Regions from separate parts of the Homo sapiens genome. Here regions 2 and 3 are each linked to region 1. The links come from fine-mapping of genetic effects on gene expression. A gene starts in region 1. Each other region holds a variant in brackets. All regions are shown on one strand. Distances are between the middles of the regions.

Region 1 (2,762 bases):
CTCATTCCTTTGGAAATGAGACATACAGTCAAAAGTTCATTGCATGGGTTAGACATTGTTTTTTAACTGCAGAGAGAAAAAGAATAAGGGAAATGGTTTCTAAAATCTTAAGCAAGTGTTGTACTTAGAAAGTTCTAGTCAACAATAAAATTATCCAAAGACAATTAACACAAACTGCACACAAGGAAATGGATTGTCTGAACTCTGCTGCGCTCTTTTCACCTTTCTGCAAGTCAGCTGGAATCCTGTATATCACTGAGAATATCAAATCAAAATTGAGTAATAGGTTCAGTAATTTTTAAAAATTCCCTCAAATCAAATGTTGTGCAATAATAGATGAACTTACAGGAAATAATTTTAAGGTGAGCAAGGTACACTTTTCTTCCAGTATATTTTCATTTTAAAAGGAATTTTTTAGTTCTTATTGCACTTATGAGGAACAAAGCACTGGGCACAAATTGTTACAAAGCACTCATCCCTTGATATGTTTTGTCTTGTATTTCCACATAGACATTTCAACCTCACTGCAAGCCACCTTACCATTTTACTGAGTTAAAACTAAATGAAAACACAAAAGGATGCAAATTAAATTCATCTGCAAAACAAGAGATTACCAAAACAATTAAATGTGAAAAGGTTATCATACTAAATCACTTTTTTTTGTTTGTGTCTTGAACATTCACTATGGAACTGGAATAAGCTTCTGCCACTACCGGCAGTTACAGCTACCACACTTTGGTAAATTCTGTATTCAAACGCATTTCTAAGTCACAGGCTATCTGGGCTACTAGCTGCATGTGCCCCAGGTGCGAATCAAATGAAGTTTTAATTACTGCTACTTGTGATCGGTATCCAATTAGACCTTTTACCCTCCTCCATTAGCAGAGGGCTGTGGCTCAACTTGGTTGTGGAGAGGTTTCCCAATGCCACAGGGCGTCACGATAACTCAATTCGGAGTGAATAATTTAAGAGCAGAGGTGCTTTCTCCCAGGACCCTCGACTCTCGCTGGAATCAGGACCTGCGTGGGTCGCGGGCTGGAAAGAAAATGTCAAAACTGGTAACAGTGCTGACACGTGTGGCCGGAGATGAGCGGTCCGGCCCTCGATCAGGATGGGGGGCCAGTAGCCCCGCCTCCGGCAGCTAGGGCCACACCCCCGGCAGCTAGGGCCGCGCCCTCGACTGTGGCTCCGAGGCCAGGTCCTAGGGCCGAAGTTTCCATCGTCTCACCTGAACTAGGCCGGGCTGGGCCCGGGCACTCGCGGGCCTAGGTTTCCATACCAGGAACCGCTTTAGCCAGCCTGGGGCTGCCTTTAGAGTCGCTGCTGCTTCCGCCTTCTCTCCTGGGGTTTGTGCGCCCTGACTGGCAGCAGGGGGTTGGGCCGCCAGACCCGCCCGTTTCCGCGCCGCCCGAAACTCAGCTAACCGCTGTTCCATGGCGCGCGCCTCGCGTCCGTTGGCCGATAAGGGAGCGCGCGCCCGCAGGCCGCACAGCAGTTGCCTCCGCTCGGCCCGCGCCGGCCGCCGTGCGCCTGCGTGGCAGAAGCCCCTGCTGAGCATGCGCACTGGTGTGACCCGCGTCTCCTCCGTTTGTGAAGTCTGGCGGGTCGCGTGTATACTCAGCCGTTCTCTCTTCACAGGCACGTGGACACAGTGTCACCTCCTCAAGCCAAGTCTAAAGCACAGGGCTGCCCCATTGCCCTCTCCCAAAGGCCGCTCTGCCTTGCTGCATCTCACTTAAGGGCTCGAGGCCCCACTGATCCAGCGTCCTGTATTCGGGATCTCTGTTGCTGGGCCCCAATGAACAGCGCCACAGTGAGAAGATGGTTCCAGGGGTTAGGAGAGGCCCGTGATCTCTACGACATTCCAGCGTCAGAGGAATAACAGGCTACATCTTACCCTTTTTCTCTTATCAAGGAAAGGGTATGCCAATCTTAGTACCTGGAGGGTGACTTTCTCACTGCTCACAAAGCAGGCTGTGCAGCTCCATCATTGGTCTTGCCACGTTGGGAAATTATCTCGTTTTGTGTCTAGATACGTCAGAACCTTAAAAAAACCAACAACAAAAACTTTTATTGGGGTGCAACATAAAATACACATCTTAAGAATATGACTCAGTAGATTTGCTCTTATGTATGCACCTGTGTAACTACCACCCAGATGGAGAGAAAGAACATTTCTGTACTCTGGGAGTTTCCTTGTGCCCTCTCCCAATCAGTACCCTCCCAAAAGGACACAGTTCAGGTTAGGGGCTGTTTTATACGTTCTTAAAGCTGTAAGCATCTAGCTAAGTGTCACTTACATAATTAAGACTCAAATATTTGTTGGATCTGGCTGAGGGTGACTCGAGAAATTAGACAAATTAGAACAGAGTCATCCATTCATTTAACAGACGTTTACCTAGGGCCTGCTCTGTCTAAAGTCACAGGCACTGGGGATGCTGGGATGAAAGGAAAAAACAAACAAAAACCTGTTTTCTTAGAGCTTACACTCCAAATGGAAATACAGACAATAAACAAATGTGTATCTACATATTTCATGTCATATCAGGTACTGATAAGTGCTGTGAAGAAAAGTGAAGCAAAGTAGGCAATGGTGGAGGTATTAGAGAAGACCTCCCTGAAGGTTTGTCATTTGGGCATAGACTTAAATGAGTGAGGTATGTAGATATCTGAACAGGAGTGTTTCAGTCAGAGGAACAAGTGCAAAGGTCCCGAGGCCTCAAATAGCACGCTTGACTTGTTCACAGAACATCAGGGAGGCT
Region 2 (2,762 bases), 29 kb after region 1:
AGAATAAATTCACAGCCCACTAAACTATCAGGCTCCAAATAATTTTCATTCATTTTGAAAAATCAAATATACTTTCAGAGGAAAAGATTTGCCACCATGAAGGATATTCAAAGGGATGTGCCCAGACTCTAAAGATATCTATTTACACCATTTATATGTGTGTGTGTGTTTGTGTACAGTTGGTATTTAGTAAAATCCTTAGCCCCTCTGAATCCCGCAGACAGATCCACAGCCGGTGCTGTGATGCTGAGCCAAGATTCAGGATGATGGACAGGGGCAGGGAAAGATTGAGGACCAGGATTCACTTTGGAGCCAGCCAGACCTGGCCCCCAGGCTCAGGGAAACCCACTTTGGCTGGGTGACCTCCATCAGTCACATCATCCTTTGAAGTCTCAGTTTATTCATCAGGAAAATGAGGACAATAACATAAGTCTCATAAAGTTTGAGGATCGTTAAGTGTTAACTTCATAAACAAGCAAAGAAGAGGCACCAGTGGCTGGGAACGTTAATTCTAATTAAGGCATAAGGCATCAACATGCTTGCATGATATCTCGTGTAGCAGGAAAAGATGGAGTCAGAGGAAAAGGCAGATATGCAGGCTTAACTCTGTCCCAGCACACCTTCTAGAAAGAAAACAGCTGTCTCCTGTAATGTCCAGCTCCCCTGCCCTTCCTAGGTGGAAGGGTGGTGTTTTGTTCTCTCCCGAGGAAACCATTTCTCAGTCTCTCACCTGGTGTAGTCCATTGGGCCCTGAAGCTACCAGGCCAGTTTCAGTCAGTGTTTATGAAATGCCTTTGCCGGAGGCTACCTGATTGGCTTATCAGCCCTGGCCCTGGTAGCATTTCCGTACAATGAGCAGTGACATTTACAGCTTCAAGAAGTGCAAGGGAAACATTTTTCTTGCAGACTCCTCTTTCTCTCTCTAATGAAGCGGTCATTATAATCTTTCAGAGATGGTGCTCAAAAATGTACCCTAGCTTCCCACAGGAGAAACACTGTAAATGTCAGACACCCGATCACACTGTCTGTCTGGAGTGCATAAAACCAGCTGCTTGAACGCTGGAAAACAAAAGTCATGTTTCTTCCTGTTCTGCAGCCAAGCCTGGCTTCCGCGCATGTGACCTGTGCGGTCGCGCGGAGTCCTTCACTCAGAAGCCTCTGTTCTTGGTTTAATAATCTGCATCTAAAACTGGCACTGTACCATATAAAAATGAATCATAAACTTTAGGCTAAGAATTTACGCTTCTTTGTTTTTCTTTACATAGTTACTTAATGTATTAGTCTGTTTTCCCACTGCTGATAAAGACATATCCAAGACGGGGTAGTTTATAAAGAAAAAGAGGATGAATGGACTCCCAGTTCCACGTGGCTAGGCCTCACAATCATGGTGGAAGTCAAAAGGCACGTTTTACATGGCAGCAGGCGAGAGAAGAGAATGAGAGAGCCAAGTGAAAGGGGAAACCTCTTATGAAACCATCAGATCTCGTGAGACGCATTCATTACCACAAGAAGAGTATGGGGGAACCTCCTCCATGATTCAGTTACCTCCCACCCACCCTGCCAACAACA[T/C]GTGGGAATTATGGGGGCTACAATTCAAGATGAGATTTGGGTGGAGAGACAGTCAAACCATATCACTTAGTCTTTACTTAAAATGGGGTCTCACTAAGTTACCCAGACTGCTCTTGAATGCCTGGGCTCAAGCAGTCCTTCTTCCTCAGCCTCCCGAGTATCTGGGACTACAGGTGTGGACCACCATGCCTGGCTCCCTCTTTGTACTTTAAATAGCAAATAAAAAGCACCACAAGTTGAGGGATTGCAGAAGAAAGGAGAAAGCTCTTTGTTTTTGTATATGTAACAGCACTTTTGTTCTGCTTTTTGAATGAGGAGCGCTGCATTTTCATTTTGCACTGGGCCCCACAAATTATGTAGCCAGCCCTGTCTGAAGCAGTGTAGAAATAACAGCTGTCTTTATCAGAAGGATAGGAAATAAAAATAAACACAAATTATGAGCACTCTGGCATAACTCACCTAATGATAACCCCTCTCATTGAGACCTCCCTTCTCAGTGTGTGGGCTACTCACTGTCCATGTTTATTCTTAACTGCACTGAAAACTACCCACTGCTGGACACATGTTTCTCTCCATTTCAGTTGCTTGATATTTGATATTCTGAGATTGAATGTAGAATACTGTTTCAGGAAATTACAATTTCATAAACCCTGTGTGAAAAGAAAAGACTCTTCTTTGTCCCTGGACATCTCTCAAAGGCCCTGTCTCTCCATCAGTCTCTCTGCCTCCTGGCTCCTTCTCTTCCACCACTGCCAGTTTTCTCACCCACTTCACATTTCCTGGAGATGTTGGACTGGAGTCACTAGTGGCCCAGAATTCAGACAGGCAACCATGCTCTCCTCTACAATGATAGTGCAGGACAGTAGACAGAAGCAAACATATCTCAGTCACATACTCACCCCCACTTAGGTCAAGCCACACTGATGAACCACAGTTTGGCCTGAGTTCAGCTAAGTGGGATTTCCCAAAATGTGCTTTGAGGGATACTAAGCCCTGAAGATGCCCTATGAGAAATGTGTTCAGCGCTCAAAGGTATTCAAGAAGAACTGCATAATTGCTCCTCTTTTTGAAGACTCACAAAGCACGGTAGCATCATTAAAGGCTCTGAGAAGTTCTGCAGCAGAAAACAAGCACACAAAACATCCAACCTGTTTCACTTTGATTAACCCAGAATTTCCAAAACTTGTTATTTT
Region 3 (2,762 bases), 24 kb before region 1:
AGACAGGGCTCCCATTATTTGCTAATGCCTGCGACGTGCTCAGGGAAGGCAAAATCTATTCCAAAGGTTTATTTTCCCTCTGTTGAATTGATTCTAATCTACAGTGCTTACCCTGCTTTTGGCTCCTACGAGGCAAACTATAAAAATTCTCAAATAAAATACAGAGGCTTACTCTGCAAAGACACCTGTGTGAATGACGTGCTAAACATTCAGCAGAAACCAAATTAGGATCAACTCTTAACATTTTTTCCCTCTTTTGTGGCTGGAATGAGTTCCCCTGGGAAAGAAAATCGCCCAAGTGAGAAACTTATGCCAACCACATTCCCATGCCCCTACAGTTACCTGCTGGCCCAGATCAGCTCTCTGGGTCTGCAGAGGGCCGAGACAGGAAGCATTATTAAGCAGTATAATTTCAAACACTTTACTTAGTGCCACAGTGTGTCTGCAGTATCTATAAGTACTTCCGCTCTGTCAAGGAATACAGACTGGCAGGAAGCAGATAAGCATAATTGTTTTCCAATAACTCCCCAAGTCTCTTGGAATATATATGTATCTGAATCTCTCAGAGGAGAGAGTTTTCTCTCTTCTTTGGCCATTTTAGCCTATTTTCCAGGACCTTGTCTAGCAGTGGCTCCATTTTTCCCCGATGCATCCAACTTCCCTCCCTGCACTCCTCCTCCCCGACAGCTGCCTCAGGAATAGGTGACCCTGCTGGCCATACTGTGAATGCTGTTCTTTCAGCTGTGACCAATTTGGGGGTGCAGCTGAGAGTGAGGTGCTGTCAGGGCTGAAAAGGACGCACCTCATTCTACATTTGGATGTGATGAGGAGCAGGGCAGCCACCAGCTTGGATCCTAACTTACATTGGGTGGTGCAACCTTTCTGACGGGGCCTGCCAAACTATCAGTAATTAGCCAGCCTAGACAATGTAGCATGACTAATTATTGCTGTGTCAAAGCAATTCAGGACAAGAAAAACATATCTAAATGAGAATGTTTAGATGTGGTGAGAAAAGAGCTCTCACCACAATTTGAAACATATAAAAAGTTGAGTTCTTTGCAGGGGAGCCAACGGGGGCATTGAGGGAAGGGCAAAATTCACCCCAGACAGCCAGTGCTTGATCTTGCCAAACAGTTTACACTTTACCTCCAAACCTGCAGTTCTAAGCTACTCCACTAAAATAATCATCCCATCCTCAAAGCAGACCAACTCCAGCATCCCATCGGTTCTGGAGGGATTTGATGCAAACCTTTAAATGCACCAACAGAGAGGTAAGCCAAGCTCTCAGGAGGGACAAAGATAGATTTCTATCTTCAGTGCTCTTGGGGGATGTTTGCTCCTCATGAGTGTTTAAACAAGATCATTTCCAGGTGATTTCTTAACATATAAATTCCTGCAAAATAGGACCAGCTTCTATAGGTAGCGAATGTGTAGGTCATATAATTCCTTGTACAGATGTGAATGGATGCAGACTCTTTCCTAATTTGCCTTGTAAGCCAAATAAAAGTCTGTCTCTACTGTCTCTCTTGCTCTTCCTTTGCGAAAGGAGGCTTTCTGCAATGTCAATCCAGGTGACTCACAGTGCAGTGGGAAAACACAAAAGATGCCGTTTCCAGCCAAG[G/GA]AAAAAAACCTTGCTCATTACTCACACCGTGATTTTCATCTTCAAAGCACTCACCAAGTACTAATTTATCCATCGCAGCCTTTATGCAGGGACTGCAATGTCATTTAATTAGAGAAGTTGGGTGGTCGAGTGGCTTAAACAATAACTGATGGCCAAATGGATGTGTATTTTAATTCCGCTCATTCATTCGATCTCTCCTGTCTAAATGAACTCAGTCCATTAAATCCATTAAAAAAAAAGTCATAAAAGCATAAGCTTTGTTTGCAAAGCAGCCACAGAATTTGAATGGAACTGCTGTTTAGAAATTCATCTTCAGAAAAAATGAACTTTTCTCCAATTTAAATAATCACTCACTCTCCAGATTTGCAACTCACTCTTATAGAAGGGCAGAGGAATTGCAGATTCTCCTAATTCCCCCATCATTTCAGCTACACCTATTTGAAGGTCGGTGTACTTACCTGAAAGTATCTTTAAACATCCGCTTTTTAGACAAGCTGTGGTAATTGTCCCTTTCAAACATAAGAATAATTCTTACCCTGAGAGCAAGTTATACCTACAGCCAACTCCTGATAGCAGCAGGTGGAACATCTGCATTTGTTTCTCTGCACCAATCTTGCTTTTGAGTTAATTCCCTCCCCTATGGATATTCTTACCTTTCTGTGCCCTTCCCCTTCCACTTAACAGGACCAAAATAGAGGTTTTTATCCCCTCCCTACCTTCCAGGAAAACATCCACCCAAACCAATTAATGACCACCACATTTCTAGGTAGCTATTACAAATAATAGAAATCAGGTAGAAGTGCACCTTCTTTCTCTGAGGTTGCACTGTGGCTTAATAAGGGCTTGACCTCAGCCTAAAGAAAGGGGGTTGGGGAGCTGCCCTGCTGTTCCGAGGCCTAGCCACTGGGGAGACAAATGAGAATTCTTGGCTTCCAGACTCATTCATCCTCACATGCAATATAAAGCCATATTCTAGTGACTGCTGCCCCCAGATGGGGAAGACTGTGTTCCACATAGAGTTTGTGAAGGATCTCACTCACATGCCATGCATATCAGCATTTTCAAGGTTTGAGAACTCCTGTCCCCTTCCCTTATTATCCTCTCAAAACCCTGTGCCATGAACATATGGCAGTTCAGTCTC

Evidence for each region. PIP is the estimated chance that this variant, and not a neighbour inherited with it, causes the effect.
Region 2: its variant is fine-mapped to the expression of SAYSD1 in whole blood (INTERVAL, PIP above 0.99).
Region 3: its variant is fine-mapped to the expression of SAYSD1 in esophagus mucosa (GTEx, PIP 0.91).

What each region holds. Positions count from the first base shown.
Region 1 is chr6:39,113,655-39,116,416 of GRCh38, forward strand. It overlaps SAYSD1 (SAYSVFN motif domain containing 1), which reads right to left and starts at 1,532. Exons shown (of 2, transcript NM_018322.3): 1 at 1,229-1,532. The coding sequence starts at 1,435. RefSeq lists an enhancer at 1,126-1,415.
Region 2 is chr6:39,142,624-39,145,385 of GRCh38, forward strand. No RefSeq gene overlaps it. Among named protein-coding and RNA genes, the nearest start is that of SAYSD1, 29 kb to the left of the region's middle. The variant T/C (reference allele first, on the strand shown) is at 1,570.
Region 3 is chr6:39,089,782-39,092,543 of GRCh38, forward strand. It overlaps GLP1R (glucagon like peptide 1 receptor), which reads left to right. Exons shown (of 13, transcript NM_002062.5): 13 at 1-1,522. Among named protein-coding and RNA genes, the nearest start is that of MIR9983, 17 kb to the left of the region's middle. The variant G/GA (reference allele first, on the strand shown) is at 1,622.